2 linked regions of the Homo sapiens genome follow. The protein of the gene in region 1 interacts with the protein of each later gene in a pairwise test. Each region holds a gene or a part of one and is shown on either strand. Other genes may lie near its edges.

The links. Proteins that work in one complex are often made in the same cells at the same time.
Region 2: the proteins of ETV6 (region 1) and HDAC9 interact in binary tests that used the Homo sapiens proteins (3 or more experiments, as listed by UniProt).

The regions. Positions count from the first base shown.
Region 1 is NC_000012.12:11,861,525-11,869,673, forward strand, and holds part of ETV6 (transcription factor ETV6), read left to right. Parts: intron 1-7,899; coding exon 7,900-8,149. UniProt on the Homo sapiens protein: Transcriptional repressor; binds to the DNA sequence 5'-CCGGAAGT-3'. Plays a role in hematopoiesis and malignant transformation.
Region 2 is NC_000007.14:18,498,014-18,506,162, reverse strand, and holds part of HDAC9 (histone deacetylase 9), read right to left. Parts: intron 3,583-8,149; exon of another isoform or gene 3,524-3,582; intron 1-3,523. UniProt on the Homo sapiens protein: Responsible for the deacetylation of lysine residues on the N-terminal part of the core histones (H2A, H2B, H3 and H4).

The DNA of each region.
Region 1 (8,149 bases):
CTGCACCAGGGTCCTCCAACTGGAGGCTGCTTTTAGCCCTAGGGCTAGCGTGCTCTCTTAAGCCAGAAGTTTTAGGGGCAAGAGATCCCTAATATGCATGAATGACTCTCACAAGACAGGCAGGAAGTCTCCAAGAGACTTCCTTTACCCCTAGGGAAATGCCATCTGATCTTTGAGATAAGGGGCTGGGAGCAGTTTGATTTCATCTCCAGAGAAGGAAGCCCTCAGTTAAGGGGTCATCTTGCTCTTTTCCCCACTCCAGGGCCTCTCTGCCTTATCTCTGTGCCACCTGTGACCCCAGGCCTTATACATGATTGAGAGGATTACCCAAACAGACCTAATTGACTTATTGGAAATCCAATCCTTTGATTTTTTAATTCACTTCTTTTGTGCTGCTTTATGGAGACAAAGGAGACTCCCCTATACTGCCTGTGAAGAGCAAGACAGTCTGCAGCCCCGACTGTGAGGACTGTGAGGCCTCCTGTGTCAGCAGATGTGCATGTACTCTCTGTACTGATCCCCTGGAAAGGTGGCCTGTTTGAAAGCAGTCCTGCCCAGGCCTGCAGTAATGAAGATTAAGCCTCAGAGTACTACAGGTTACCCATTTTGTTTTGTTTAGCCCCTTTCATCAAATGCTTATAAAATTCTAGGAGCTTACCTAGGGTTTATTGTTGATAACCTCAAACATATGTGAATCATCCACTCCAAACTAGGGCAGTTTTCTTCTCAGGCCCTCCAAGGGAGTTCGGTGACATTGGCACATTGTGGGGATGAATAGGCTGAAATGCCAGGTACACAGTTAGTGGAAAGACTCCAAACCAAGCAAAGGTTGAACGTCAGGTAACTGGAGTAGGGGGTGTATTAGTTAGCTAGGGCCGCTGTAACAAAGTACCCCAAACGGGGTGGCTTAAACAACAGATATTTATTATCTCACTTTTCTGGGGGCTAGAAGTCCAAGGTCAACGTGTGCCAGAGTTGGTTCCTTCTGAGAGAGCTGTGAGGTAGGATCTGTTCCATGACTCTCTTCTCGTTTCTGGTGGTTTGCTGGCAAGCTTTGGCATTCCTTGCCTTGGAGGTCTCTGCCTTCATCTTCACCTGCATTCTTCCCCTGTGTATGTCTGGAAGTCCAGAGTATACTTTTTATAAAGACACCAGTCATATTGGATGTTTAAAATGACCTCATCCTAACTAATTACATCTGCAAGGACCGTCTTTCCAAATAAGATCACATCCTGAGGGTACTAGGGGTTAGGACTTCAACTTATGAATTTTGGGGGAGAGATAGTCAACCCATAATGGGCATAAGAGACCGGGAGTGGTATATGAAATATAGTTTGAATTCCACCTCAAGACCTTGAGCTTATGACTTCTGTCTAGCTCTGTGTATCATTCATACTTCCCACTAATTTTTAACAAAATGACTGGGAGAGGGAGAAAGTGAAACCCAGTGGACTGAGGCTTGAGTGAGCATTACCTCCTGGGCCTGTTGATTTGCGTCTCCCTGGTGACCTTCTTCTCTGACCAGCATCCGTGGGCTTAGGGAAAGCACGGTGGTGGAAATGTGATCCTGGTGTGTGAGATGCAAACTTGATCTTAGCCTTTGCTCTCCCTGGAAACTTATCGGTCAAAACTTTCACTAAAGGCAGTTTTTTGTCTGTTTGTTTAGGTTTACTGGTTATTTATTATTTATAGCATGGTTAAATTGGGTCAAATTTTTATGAATTGTAAGTAGAGAAACTTTTCTAATAAGAGGAAAGGATAAGAAATCAGACCTTTTTGTAAAGAAAATTACCCCACTTAAAGTCCTGGTTTATTTTAGGCCGTTTGGCAGTGAGAAGAAGGGATTATTTGTGTCTGACAGAGGTCTACAAGGAAAAAGGTTTGGGATCAGAAAACACTTCCAACCAGAATGACGGTTCCCTGCCAGTCCTTGGTCTTTCTTCCTCCCTTCCTTCTGTGCCCACATGGACTAATTATGTCTGGCTTTCCCTCCCTCTTCCTTGTATATTTCCCTTCCATATCAAGACCTTCAGAATGAGGGCAATGTGGATAATTTCCCAGTTTTCCAGCTGGGCAGCTCACCAAGAACAAACCCAGACATCAAGGCCAGACCAAAAAAATCTTCTTGTTTTAGACAGAAGACTCCTACATCTGGGGGATTTAATGCACCCACTGTCCGCTCAGTGCATTTCCTGTGTCCGGAGCTTCTCTGCCTGCCGGCTCTGGTCTCGTAAGTTTCCATGCCCTGCTGCCAACTTATAATAACAGAGGCGGCAGGCAGCAGGCTGAGAATGTCATAGCCTACTCCATACATGGGCACTGCTTTGCAGACTGAAACAAAGCTTGCAGGGTCTCATTGCAGGCCTCTCAGCCTTGACAGTGGTTGTGCCCAGACCACCAGGAGCCTGGAATTAAATACCCTCGGATCCAGTTCTCTACTGTTAATGTTATCAGCTTCATCAAGTACTTCCTCTTTGAGTGATATCTGTGGAGAAATAAATAAATCAAGCTCCTCCAAGTCCTGTTCCTGCCTGGATCCTGAGTCCAAAGTAAAATCTGAGTTGGATTATCCAAAGCACTATCACCCTCCTGCATTGTTCCCAAGGTCTGGGCAGGAACGGAGAGTGAAATCTCTCCAGGACATTACATCAGTTCCTCCTTTACCCTTGGCATGAAAGTTCTTCCTCTCCTGGTCCTCCCAGACTTCCTAAGGCCTGCCCTGAGTGCACACCCACACACTAAGCCTTGAAGCCCAGGACATCAAAGAAAGCCTGCAGGTAACCAGATTACTGACCAACGCCTGTGACCGTTTTGAAATTTATAAGATGGGAAATGGATTCAGGAAATGGGATTTTTCAATACATGGTCTTCATCATCCTTAAGTATTTTTAAGCCTTAATAAGCTTTTAAGTAAAGAGAGACATTCTGTAAATGGCATTTAGAAGAAAATATAGGAAAGTTCAAACTGGAACTGTCTTCAATAGTTGTTTACAGTGATCATATTCTGTGACAAATGAAAAGTGGACCAGGGACAAAAGATAAATACATTTCTATGGGCAGCAGAATTGACATCCATATTATCTATAAAAGGAAAGTTTGCCTTGTCTACAAAAGATTACAGATCATTTTAGTTGGTGCCCAGTAAGCATTTCTATGCATTTGGGTTAAAGTGAGGAAGTTAGTGCTTGTCTTTCCAACCTATATCCTTGCAAGGTTAATTAAGCACTTTAAAAAAAAAAAAGCTTTTTATAACAGGAAATATCAAACCTATACAAAAGTAAAGAGAATTGTGTAATGAATCACCATGTACCCATCACCAGTTTTGATGATCAACTCAAGGCCAATCATGTCTTCCTCTGTGGTCTACCTCCTCTCTCCTTCACCATCCCAGATTATTTTACAGCAAATCTCAGATATATAATTTCCCTTGTAAATAGTATCAACAGGCTGGGCGCGGTGGCTCATGCCTGTAATCCCAGCACTTTGGGAGGCTGAGGTGGGCGGATCATGAGGTCAGGAGATCGAGACCATCCTGGCTAACATGGTGAAACCCTGTCTTTACTAAAACTACAAAAAATTAGCCAGGCATGGTGGCGGGCACCTGTAGTCCCAGCTACTCAGGAGGCTGAGGCAGGAGAATGGCGTGAACCCGGGAGGTGGAGCTTGCAGTGAGCAGAGATCACGCCACTGCACTCCAGCCTGGGTGAAAGAGCGAGACTCCGTCTCAAAAAAAAAAAAAAAAAAATAGTGTCAACATAGGTCTCAAAAAAAGACTATAAAATCATAATAGAACCATCATATCACTTGAAAACTAGTAGTTCCTCGGTATCATCAAATAATCTGCTAGTGTTCACTTTTTGCCAACCATCTCATAAATGTTTTTTACAGTTTGGATCAGAATCCAAACAACATCTATACATTGCAGATGGTTAACGTATCTCTTAAGTTTTTTTCAACCTATAGGTTCCCATCTGCAACCTTCTTGTGTGTGTGTTTGAGCAGTCCCTCTCTTCAGGTTTTTTTAAAGAAGTCAGCCATAATTAGTATATTCGTATATATAATATATTATATATATTAGCGTAGGCTTATATATACTATGTAAGTATATACTTATATAGTATTAGTATATACTATATATCATATATACTATAATCATATATAGTATATATGGTGTGTGTGTATATATATACTATATATCATACTATGCATATATAGTATATTAGTATAATCTCCCCCTGTACATAGTTTCTTTTTTTCCTCTGGTTGCTTTCAAGATTTTCTCTTTATTTTTGGTTTTCAGCAGTTTGACTATGGTGTACCTGGGTGTGGTTTTTATTTTACATATCTTACTTGAGATTCTTGGACCTTCGAATTTACTGTTGTTGATAATGTTGTTACCAAATTTGAGGACAATCTAGCCATTATTTTTTAATTTATTCTACTCTGTTTTTTTCTATATTCTCCTTCTTGGACACCAATTACATGTGTGTTAGACCACGTGATATTGTTCCACAGGTCACTGAGGATTTGTTTTGTTTGGATTTCATTTTTACTGATCTGTCTTCAAATTTTCTAACCCTTTCTTCTCTCATCTCCGTTCTGCTATTAAGTCCATCTAGTCCGGTCTTTCATTTCAGATATTATACTTTTCAGTTATAGAATCTTTATTTTGCCTTTTTTTTTAATTCCATTTCCCTTTTGGCAGCCTGTATGTGTCATCATTTATTACAACCATGATTTTCTTTTAGGGCTTGAACTTATTTATAATAGCTGCTGTAAAGTTTTTCTGTTTGTTTGTGTTAACTCCAACATCTGCATTATCTCAGGTTCTGTTTCTTTTGATGGCCTTTCCTCCTTATTATGAGTCACATGTTTGTATTTCTTCTCATATCTAGAAAATTGTGACTGGATGCTGAGCACATTGAGACACTGGATTGTGTTCTATTCCACTGAAGAGTATTGACTTTTGTTCTAGGAGGCAATCAAATTACTGGCCAGTTACTTTGAATCTGTAGAGGCATGGTCTTACGTTTCATTAGGTCCAATCTGTTTCTATTTTGCCTTTTGCCCTTAGCAGATCCCCTTGTCCTAGGGTTTTTACTCCTACATTGTGGCCATTCTGGGGTAACAAACAGCCTGAAGTGTTTACAGAGCCTTTGAACTTGATGAGACTCAAACTCTGAACTCTGTCTCCACTGCAGTAGCCAGTAGCTGAGGTTTCCGCTTAGATCTTTTGATTATACAACTGTTGCTTTTCACTGAACTCCAAAGGGTCTCCCTGGCACTTGGGCTATTCGGTAATCAGACAAGAATTTGAGGAAGCTTTTACATGCCAATTTAATCACTCTCCCCTCTGTGGCTCCCACTGTATGGGATTTGTTTCTTCAATTTTCTGCCATTCTGGCAGCTACCTACTCTATCTCAAGCAACTTTCTGTTTATCTTCTAACTGCCCCTGTGCTGCACGGACTGGGGAGGAACATGCAGCATAGGGCAGTTAGGAGATCAACAGAATCAGGGGGAAAGCTGTTTAAATATGGACCTCACTCTGTGCAGTTCCCTTCTTTCAAGAGTGAAATCCTCTCCGGTTTTTGTCTGCCCTTGATACCTTCAAATAGTTTTTTCAATGTATTTAATATGGTTTCTTTCATTTCTACCCGTAAGAAGGTTAGTTTGGTACACGCCACTCTGCTATTGTTGAACTGAAATTGCCCCTTTCCTTGTTTAGATAAGTGGTGGCAGATCATAAATACTTCATCTTGCTTTTCGTATCTAACCATAGATTCTGATGCTAGTCCTTAGCAAAATATCAAGATACTCCTCATTCCTTTTTACTTTTACGTAGTACTCCATTTTTTAGAGATATATACTATAATTTATTAAATCAGTCTTCTATTGATAGCTATTCCAATGATGAGGCACTTGAATTTATGGCAGTGGGTTATACAGTAGTCACAAAATAAGCCCTTTGCCTTCAAGGAGATGATCTTTTAATATTGTGAACAATATTTTTGTTCAGTGATCATATGATAGATGAGATCTAGTAGAACTTTCAAAAAAGAAAAAAGTCCGCATTTTCTTCTTAACCCTGTGTAAAACTTAAAACCACTATGTCTGTCTCTGTTTACTGACCCTATCAAATTACGGAATTCACTTTATGTGTTCTTCATATATGTATATTATCTTAATGGACAAAGGTGATATGTTTGACTTGCTTTACTTAGAACTGTGGACAATTCTTTGACCAGAACAAGGACAGCAAGCATGCACATCCTTTTGGTGAGACTGCCCTGGGAACAGATGTGGCCAGAGAGAGTTCATTGAGTTGGGTGTGGAGCCGTGTAGAAATCCCCATTTTTATGGGCAGATTTCTGTCCTTCTGCACCTTAGCAGGGACTTCTGGAGCCAGGTGTGTGCCGGTCCATTCCCCGACCCAGCCCTCAGAGCTACTTCTCTTGCTGAGCTGTGTACACTTCTGATGTTATCCTCGCTCACATGTCACCAGCTTGCAACTTTGAGTGGGATGAGTTAGAGGTGTCCATCCATCCTGCTTCTTCCTTACTTCTGCCTGTCTCTGAGCACTCAGGAGCAAAGTGCTCCCAAAAGTTCTTTCAAGTTCAGTAAGATTGTCATTCTGTAAATTGGGGCCACTGTGCATGCTTAGAGCAGGTTTTGGTGTGACTTTGTGTCATAGTTTCTATATTGCAGTGACAGATGTTGTCATGAGTACACAGGTTCTAGAATCTGACTGGAGTCTGGTTCTATAATCTCCTAACTGGCTGTGTGACCTTGGGTAAGTTATTTAACTTCTTTACGCCTCAGTTTTATCATCTGTAAAATAGGGGTACTAGTGGTATCTCTTGGTTAGGAGTGTCATGAGTGTCATAAGGTTGGGGGTTTTTTTCTTTTTTCTTCTTTTTTTTTTTTTTTTTGAGACAAAGTTTTGCTCTGTCACCCAGGCTGGAGTGCAATGGTGTGATCTTGGCTCGCTGCAACCTCCACCTCCTGGGTTCAAGCGATTCTCATGTCTCAGCCTCCCGAGTAACTGGGATTACAGGCGGGAGCCACCGCACCCAGCCAGGAGTGCTATAAGTTTTAAACAGTGAAATCCAGCATCTAAGATATAGTTATTACTAATAATTATTACTAATATTATTAACATTATCACTAATACTAATAACTCCTAGAGTTAGAGAATATGAAAATTTTAGTTGTGAAAATGTAAGTCAATGAAAGCATCTAGAGAGAAACCTGTAAGAACCCTTCCACCTCTGAAAGCGACGTAGAAGAGTTAAATGATGGCCAAAAGATGGGGCATGGAAGTTTGGCTTCCTTGTGCCTACAGGCCACAGGTAGGTCATTAACGGAATGCTTGTAGACATCCTTAGGTTGTCTGGCAATAGAAAAATAGTTTCAATATGCACACCTTAAGGCCAGGCGCGGTGGCTCACGCCTGTAATCCCAGCACTTTGGGAGGCTGAGGCAGGCAGAGCACGAGGTCAGGAGACCCAGACCATCCTGGCTAACACGGTGAAACCCCATCTCTACTAAAAATAAAAAAAATTAGCCGAGCATGGTGGTGGGCGCCTGTAGTCCCAGCTACTCGGGAGGCTGAGGCCGGAGAATGGCATGAACCCGGGAGGCAGAGCTTGCAGTGAGCCGAGATCGTGCCACTGCACTCCAGCCTGGGCAACAGAGTGAGACTCCATCTCAAACAGAAAAAAAAAAAAAATATGCACCCTTCAAATTGTTAAGCAGTGAAAAAGACACTGCATTCTGGGGAGAAAGGTCCTTTACACATACCTACACGCTCCTCCATTTACCGCCTGTAGAGCCGCAGGGAGTTTCCTGTCCTGCCAACTCACTGGGGTCTGTGATTGTCTTTCCCTCTGCTCCACAGATAACTGTGTCCAGAGGACCCCCAGGCCATCCGTGGATAATGTGCACCATAACCCTCCCACCATTGAACTGTTGCACCGCTCCAGGTCACCTATCACGACAAATCACCGGCCTTCTCCTGACCCCGAGCAGCGGCCCCTCCGGTCCCCCCTGGACAACATGATCCGCCGCCTCTCCCCGGCTGAGAGAGCTCAGGGACCCAGGCCGCACCAGGAGAACAACCACCAGGAGTCCTACCCTCTGTCAGTGTC
Region 2 (8,149 bases), on another chromosome or scaffold:
TAAGCAGACAGTTATCATGCTATTTTGGCAGCAGGAAGGAATCTGTGGTTTCACTTGAATGTTATTCTTCTTTATTTAAACTACTAGAAATAACCCAAAAATGACAGAATGCTCTTTCTATAAATAATCATTCCAGTGTAGAGTTATATTAGGAGGTAACTCATATGGCATGATAACGCCTAACAAGCTAATCTTAGACCTGCGATGCCATAAGATAGAAATACCGAGGCTAAGAATAACTGACCCAAAGGAGTCAGGCTGCTAAAGAGAGGCACAGACATGTGGACATCTGCAGGTTTTAATGCATTTAATGATCTTCTGAAAGCTTCTTTCCCCTAGGAAGGCAATAAATTATGTCAATCATTAACGTGATAATCAATAATGCTTTTACAATGTATTGATTCCTGAAGATGGCTCAAGATTCTCATAGCAAATAAGATCATAAAAATTACCTGTTGGAAAGCCAAGAGTGGGCTTTTGCATAATTGGATTAGTAGGTAATGGGTGAATTTTACGCTTAAGCCACCTACAGAACATATGACATTCATCCAATAAAGCAAAATTAACTCAAGATAAAGTAAAACGTAGTATGATGATAATACATATAAACACAGCCATCCAGTTTTCACCTAAATTGTCCAAACTGGACCCAAATTGGACAGATATATATTCAAAATAAGTAGAAACTGAATTATGTTAGCTAGATCTTTATTGTGGCTAGAGAATTTCACATTGCAAGTTGAAATTAGGATTTGAGTGGTGATATAGGCTTTATTAACCTTACATTTCAAGGTAAATGCCAAGGTGAGTATAATTCAAACCTTTTGGTCAAAATAAATGAACCCCATAATGCTAACATTTCAAAAAAAATTACTTTCTCCTGCCAAAATACATTAATAATAATTTGCTATTTTGAAGCGGGGCTAACTTTACCCTCATGATCTGTGTATCATGAACACTGGCAAACAGGTGCCAAATGCATCAGGAATGCTGCTTCTGTCCAGAGCATCTGCTCCAAGGAAAAGAGCACGCTCATAGAAGCTTGGTTTCCTTAAGCTCCTCTCAGCCCTGGATAGTGCTAACTTCCTCGAATTTAATTATCTAGCACTGAGAACATGAAGTAAGGATCTTCCAGCAAAACTTTCAACATGCTTGCCTATTTGTGCCTTAAACCTCCCAGGATTAAGAAGTCTGTCTAGGTATTTGTTTATACATATATAAATGTGTCCACATTTTTAGTACCAAGCAGAATTATCCTATGCTAAATATTTTTTGAGAAAAAGGGGCAGGACCCTGCCATTTAAACACGACCCTGCCATTTCCTACCTACAGTAACCATCAGTAAATTTCTTATCTCTCTGAATATATTTCCTCAACTGTAAAACACCAATATTGCTGCAACAACTACTGCATTATTAAACTGTGGTGAGGATTAAATGATCAAGTGATACACAGAGAAACTTTTGAAACATTAGCCATTGTGTCAATAATAAAAGAATGACATAAAAATTTTTGAAAAAAATATGCTTACAATCACTGACCTCTAAAATTGGAACTAGGCTGGGCGCAGCGGCTCATGCCTATAATTCCAGCAGTTTGGGAGGCCAAGGCGGGCAGATCACTTGAGGTCAGGAGTTCGAGACCAGCCTGGCCAATATGGCGAAACCCCATCTCTACTAAAACTACAAAAATTAGTCAGGCATGGTGGCACATGCCTGTAATCCCAGCTACTTGGGAGGCTGAGGCAGGACAATCACTTGAACCAGAAGGTGGAGGTTGCAGTGAGCCAAGATCATACCACTGCACTCCTGCCTGGATGACAGAGTGAGACTTTGTCTCAAAAAACAGAACAAAACAAAATAAAATAAAATTGGAACTAAGCAACTAGAAGATCAGAGAGGAGTATGACAGAAAAAAACAAAAACGGGTGGTGATAACTTTCTAACTTAAAATGGATAGTTCCTAATGTAAAAATCATGTACTTAAAATACACCCTTGAATTTTGATTATGAGATTTCAAAAGCATCATCAAGAATAAAGTTAAAACAGTGCTTAACACAAGAGCTTTTTCTTATTCACCCTACATGGGGTTCCCTGAAAACCTTCTGGGTAAACACATTTTTACTAAAGCAAGAACTCCCAAGCTATGATGTCATTTAATGAAAACTCAGTGAAATTTACTTATTTTTTGTTTTCTGGATTTTGGGGGGTTTATTTTGTTTTTAATATCAAGTTTCAAATTTTGAAACAACTTCATGACATTCTCATTTGAAAATGTCATGCCTTAGACATTCACCAAAATGTACCTCAAGCAAATTGAAAATAACATCCACATGGCTGCAACTGGGTCAATAATGAACATACATTATGAATTTAAAAGTTTCTGATACAAGTGGTGAACCATAAGGAGAAGCAGGAAAATAAAGTCGTGGGTATTTCCAACCTTATCAGCATGCAAAAAGTTTAATCATAAGCAAATGACTAGTTACACTCTGTGGTTTGGTAAATTTCTTTCTTCCTTAAAAGTGGTTTTCATTGGATTTAATTAATGGGTATTTAAGAAACACTGTACACGAAAAGCCCATCACTTATTTTACTATGGAAAAGTTAACATTATGATAATGAATGGAAAATATATTCTTATAAAAACACAAGAAGTATTTATTCTTATATTCATGAATCATAGCAACTCAGAGTAAACCTAAACATAACGTTCTCTGATAACACTTGAAAGTGTAGGTCGTTTAGTATTGTGAAAAATGTTGTTTAAATTAAATTTGTTTTGTGCAACCAACTTAGTTGAAGAAGAATGGAACTAGGAACACCAGGCATTTCCTCTTTCTTTGCTTCCTTATTGCCAACTTACTGGGAAAAGAAAAGGGGAAAACTGCCAACAGGAAGGACACCACATATCCCAAGCTAACCACTCACTTCAGCTTCCTTTCAAAAACAGGGGGGACCATGGCACAGCCAACACTCATTTGAGGCAGAGGCCAACATATTTTTGAATTTCTTCTTGAAAGCTTCTTTTCTAAAGTCATTTGCATGAGCTTTTATTTCAATTAAATTATTTTCAAAGCATTCAAATTCAGAAAAAAAATGTTAAAATGTAGTGCTTATCATTCCATATTGTAAAAATTGTTCATGATTCTTAAAATGTAATACTTGTGACAACCTACTGGCGAACACATTCTGAGTATTTTTAAGATAATCCTCCTTTCATATATTGAAAACAATTCATATATTATTATATTTCTCAAAAAAAATTTTGTGTGCCTCGAAGCCAACATTAAAGGAATACTCTATTCACGTTTATAATAAATGCTTGTAAGGCATGAGGCCACAATGTTGACTCTCCTTCCTTCAGAAAACATGATTAATAGCTTAGAGAGATCCAGTTTCTTCTACAATTACTTCAGTCTCTTTATTAGGGGGCTTCTTCTAACAATAGACAGTACTAAGAAAGGCAATCTATTCAATATTAATAAAAAACTTATATTCAATACTAGTAAAAAATACTTACATTAGTATTTAAACAGATATATTATCTTCATGAAAAGAAAGTCAACACCCATAGTTCAACTGAAAGGGAAATTATAAACATAGTCCATTTACTTTATTATATTTGTGGAAACTAAAAAGTAAATAAAATTGCAAAGAAGAAACTTCTTATCACCAATATCCACGTTGTAGCAAATACTGCTAGTGCCTAGCTAACATCTATTCCTCCTGCTTCTTGGTTCTTCCCAATAGAAACTTGAGCAGGTTTAGGTATCCTGCCTTCCCAGCTCAGTCATGGGTCCCACTCCTCTGAAAAACAAGTGAAAGAATAGGCAGGTGATGCTATTCTAGTCAATATAGAATAAAGGATGATCTGCTGGAGAAGTCTGGGTAAGATTTCTTTCCTTTAAAAGAGACGCCAAGACAGCAGTTTCCCCTCTTTGTCTCTGGAGTTTGTCGTGCATAAATAACATGATGCTTGAAACTGCTACGAGTCAACTTGTGACCATTGGAGGATCCAACCTTTGTCTCTGCAATTTGTTATGCATAAACATACATAATGCTTGGAACTGCTACAAGTCAGTTTGTGACCATTGGAGGATCCAATCTTAGGATCACACCAACCAAGGCTAAGACCAGCAGAGTGGAGCTATATGAAGGACCTGAATGCTGCTGCCATTTTTGACTACCTGGTGCTGCCTAACCACCCAACTACTTTATCACATGATAAATGTCCTACTTGTCTGTCATTTTGACTAGAGTGTTCTTTTATCTGCAGGAGAAAACAACCTAACTAATATACCTACTACTTACAATTAATCACTGTTAGTATTTTGACATGGTAGCTTTGTGTGGGGGTGTGTAATGAACACTTCTCATAGAATACATGCCTATTATAAAAAATCATACACTGTAAAGAGGTATGATGCTGAAAGAAAAAGCCCCTCCTCTTCACCAAACACAGCACAGCATCTTTCCTTATTTCTTCCTATCTTTATATGAATTCTTCAGGAGATGGATGGATAGATTTAAAAAATTATAAAAATAAGAACATATCACTGATGTTATATTTATTTTTAAAAACTGAAATTAAACTTAACTGAATTTAAATTTAAACTTAACTGAATTAAGCAGATTTAAAACTGCAGTTGAAGGAACTATAAATGTACTAAATACTTCCTTAACGTAAGAGATACTATTTCCAAAAAGACCTCTTTAAGGTTAAATAAACTATTTTTAAAAATCAGTGCTTTGAATCTTTTTTTTAAGTATGTGTTTCTATTTTAAGCAGCAGGGAGTCTGTCCCTGCTCAGAAAGGGAAGGATATTAGCATTTCTCACATCCTTCCATCTCACCTCTCTCTAACACCTCACACTGGCCAGCTTTATTAATATTTTTACATTCCCCTACTTTATAATATCTGTTTTCTGCCCTATAAACACAATCCAATAGTTGTTTAAATGCATTCAGTGTTCCCTCGTTACTTTGATAATGTTTTCTCTACTTCTGAATTTAGTTTTTTGTTTGTTTTAAGTTCATCTCTTCACTGTGTGGCTTTCACTGTCAAGCAGCCTCTTTCATGTTTGAGAATTTCTACTTTGTCTAACTGTTTTCCTTTTTCATTTACTCTGATTTTTTTCAAACCTTTCATCTTTATGTGTAAAGATTTTTACCTGGGCCTATTCTGTTTTCTTCTATTTCTAATGAATATTTTTTTCTATAATCATTATGATTTTCCATTCTTGATTCATTTCCTGAGATCTATATCTCCTTTCTCATCTCATTCTCTTGTTTATCATCTCACCTTTCAGCTTTTTTTAATATAAAATTTATGTAAGGTGCTCTATTTGTAGGAAGCAATACTAAGACGTCTAATTCCATGGGTTCAATGAGTTGATGTTTTTCTTCTTGGCAGAATCTCTAAGTTTAGTTGGTGAAAGGTACGTCATTCCAAAGAGCTATGGATCGATCTTTCTCCCAATTTAGTACGCTGCTCTGAAGCCTTCATTTCTACTATTTCTCAGCCACAAGAGAAAACAAGAACAACCCAAAATGGTGAGGATACCTACTCAGTTTTCTTCTCTTCAGATTTGGGAATCTTAGTGAGAATCCTCAGGAACTGGTCAACTTGCCAGTAAAATTCTAAGACAGCCCAGGAGACAGGTCTCTCTGTTATGATCAAAGAACCTCTGCATCCATTTTTGCCTTGGCTGTTAGCCTCTGAGGTATGTTGCATTAGGTTATATCATTTTCTTTGCTCAGTTACTGTTGAATATATTGGGTGACAGGGATGGAAGGTATGTTTGCTGGCTGACATGCTATTTTGGGCTCACTTCATTATTTATCAGTAGTGAGAAATTATGAGGCACATTTTAAAATTGCTCATCTCCAAAATTAAAATCATCATTTAGAATATTTTTTGAATTCAGAATTTGGATTTATTTCAGTCTTCCAAGGGGTTTTATTGGATTTTCTTACTTAACGGACATAACAATAATTATGCCTCCTGTGTCATCCTTAGAAATATGAAATACTCATTCTTGTCTCCATTCTCAATGAGCCCATTTATAATTATATTTCTGATTGATACCTATCATCTATCTCAATTGATAACAGACTTGCAAGTGAAGATAACCTGAGTTAGAGAATGGCAAAACAGTAATTATGGGGAATACCAGAAGTGATTCTTGACATGACAGGAACATTTCACAGACTTACATTTTCATAATTAGATTCTGCTTTTCAAGTAGACATAAGTGACGTGACTACTGAATCTAAAATGTTCCCTTCCCCTCAACACCATACACTAAGGAACAAAAGGATTCAAAAAAGGGTGAAGATATATAAAAGAATTTCAGGACTTTGATTTAAATGTTTTTCTTTTATACCCTAAAGTAAGAATAGATGGCCAAAATATGAGCTTTCCTTATTGTAAATATATCTTACATTACTTCTGTACAAACTCTAGGAAATTCCTTCATAATAATTGTTCCAATATTGTCTGGACAGCTCTGCTGCCCAACGTGTTAAGCAACATGCTTGGCAATGGGAGAACACCCCTAATCCTGCCAGCTCCTGCAGAGTGACCTGAGTCAATATTTGTACATGCTTCACTTTCTGCCACAGTTATCACTTACCCTGGCCCACACAAGCCACAAAAGTAGGGATGTACTTGACAAAATGTGTCACTCACACTGAATTCTAAGATTTAATATTATAGAACTTTAAACTAAAATATATTAGTACAATATTATAGAACCTGGTTCTACCAAACATGTTTAGCCTGGCCGAGTCAATATCAAAAAAACATACAACCATAAAAAAAACTTGTATTCCAATAGTATATAAAGAGCTCTGTACAAAAACCATCAATATTAGTGCATAATATCCAATATAACTAGAACAACAAATGGGAACTCTAATGCAATTGCTAAAGAAATTACACAACATAACCAATGTTTTAAAAATAATCTCATGAAATCTGCGATTGGGGTTCACTGTTCAATCACATACTGTGCAACTTCTTTGCCTTTATTACATAATGAGACATTTCAGAGAACACACACACACACACACACACATACACACCCTACTCTTACCTATAGTGATAGTCTGCATAGGAAAGATCTCAACTCTTATCAAACCAAGGTAACAAAATAAATAGTTGATTTATAAGATAACTAAGGCAAACTGATTATCAAAACAAACAATCATTTCCCCCATGTGACCTACAATGTAACTCATGTGGCTTGTTCAGCAAGATAGAACATGGCATTGAAAACCAAGATCTTAGGTTCATTCACTAAAAACAACAATTCTAATAGTGAGTATACGTTTTAAAGACATATTGATACATCTGAACCTCACAAGAATGCTAAGAGGCAAGCAGGAGGACATCATTATTCTTCAGTTTGAAGATGAGTAAAAAAATCAGTACACAATCGGCTAGCAGTGGAGCTCATGCTAGAATACAGAGTGTCTGACTCCTAGAACAGTGCTCTCTCCACTCCTTTGCACTGCTGCCAGGCATCCTTTCTCTCTTTCAAATCCAAAGACTCTGCTTCTAAGCCTATGAATCACGTCCAGACCACTGGTCCAAAAGGGAGCTGAACAAGATTTGTAGCTAAATTAAGACAAACATACCCCTAATTTAGCAGTTAGCTCAAAGGACAAACCCTACTGATAGTGGTTCACCAGCATCACCATCTGTTCCCTAGCCCTACAGCAGTGAATCTCAGTTTGCTGAAGGTTAAGGTGGGGAGATTTTAAAAACCTCAATCCCCAGGCTGTTCCCCATACCAATTAAACCAGGCATTCTGGGAGTGGAATCTAGGTATCATATTTTGTAAAGTGCTTCTGGTGAGTCCAACTTTGAGAGCCAGTGCCTCACAGGAAGTATACAATAAAGACTAGGTGAATTAAATTTAAGAACATATATGAAATATATGGCATGGCAGGAAGGGTGTAATTGTTTTTATGCTTCACATTTTAAAAATAAATAGAACTTAGTGATTATGTATTTATACCAGACAGGTTTTGGGAGTTGATGTTAACCTACATCACTTTTCATTTAATAGCTAGCTGCTGCTTAAATGTTGCTTCTTGTAGAACTGGCCAAAGCATGGACAGCCTGAAGCACTTCCCTGTC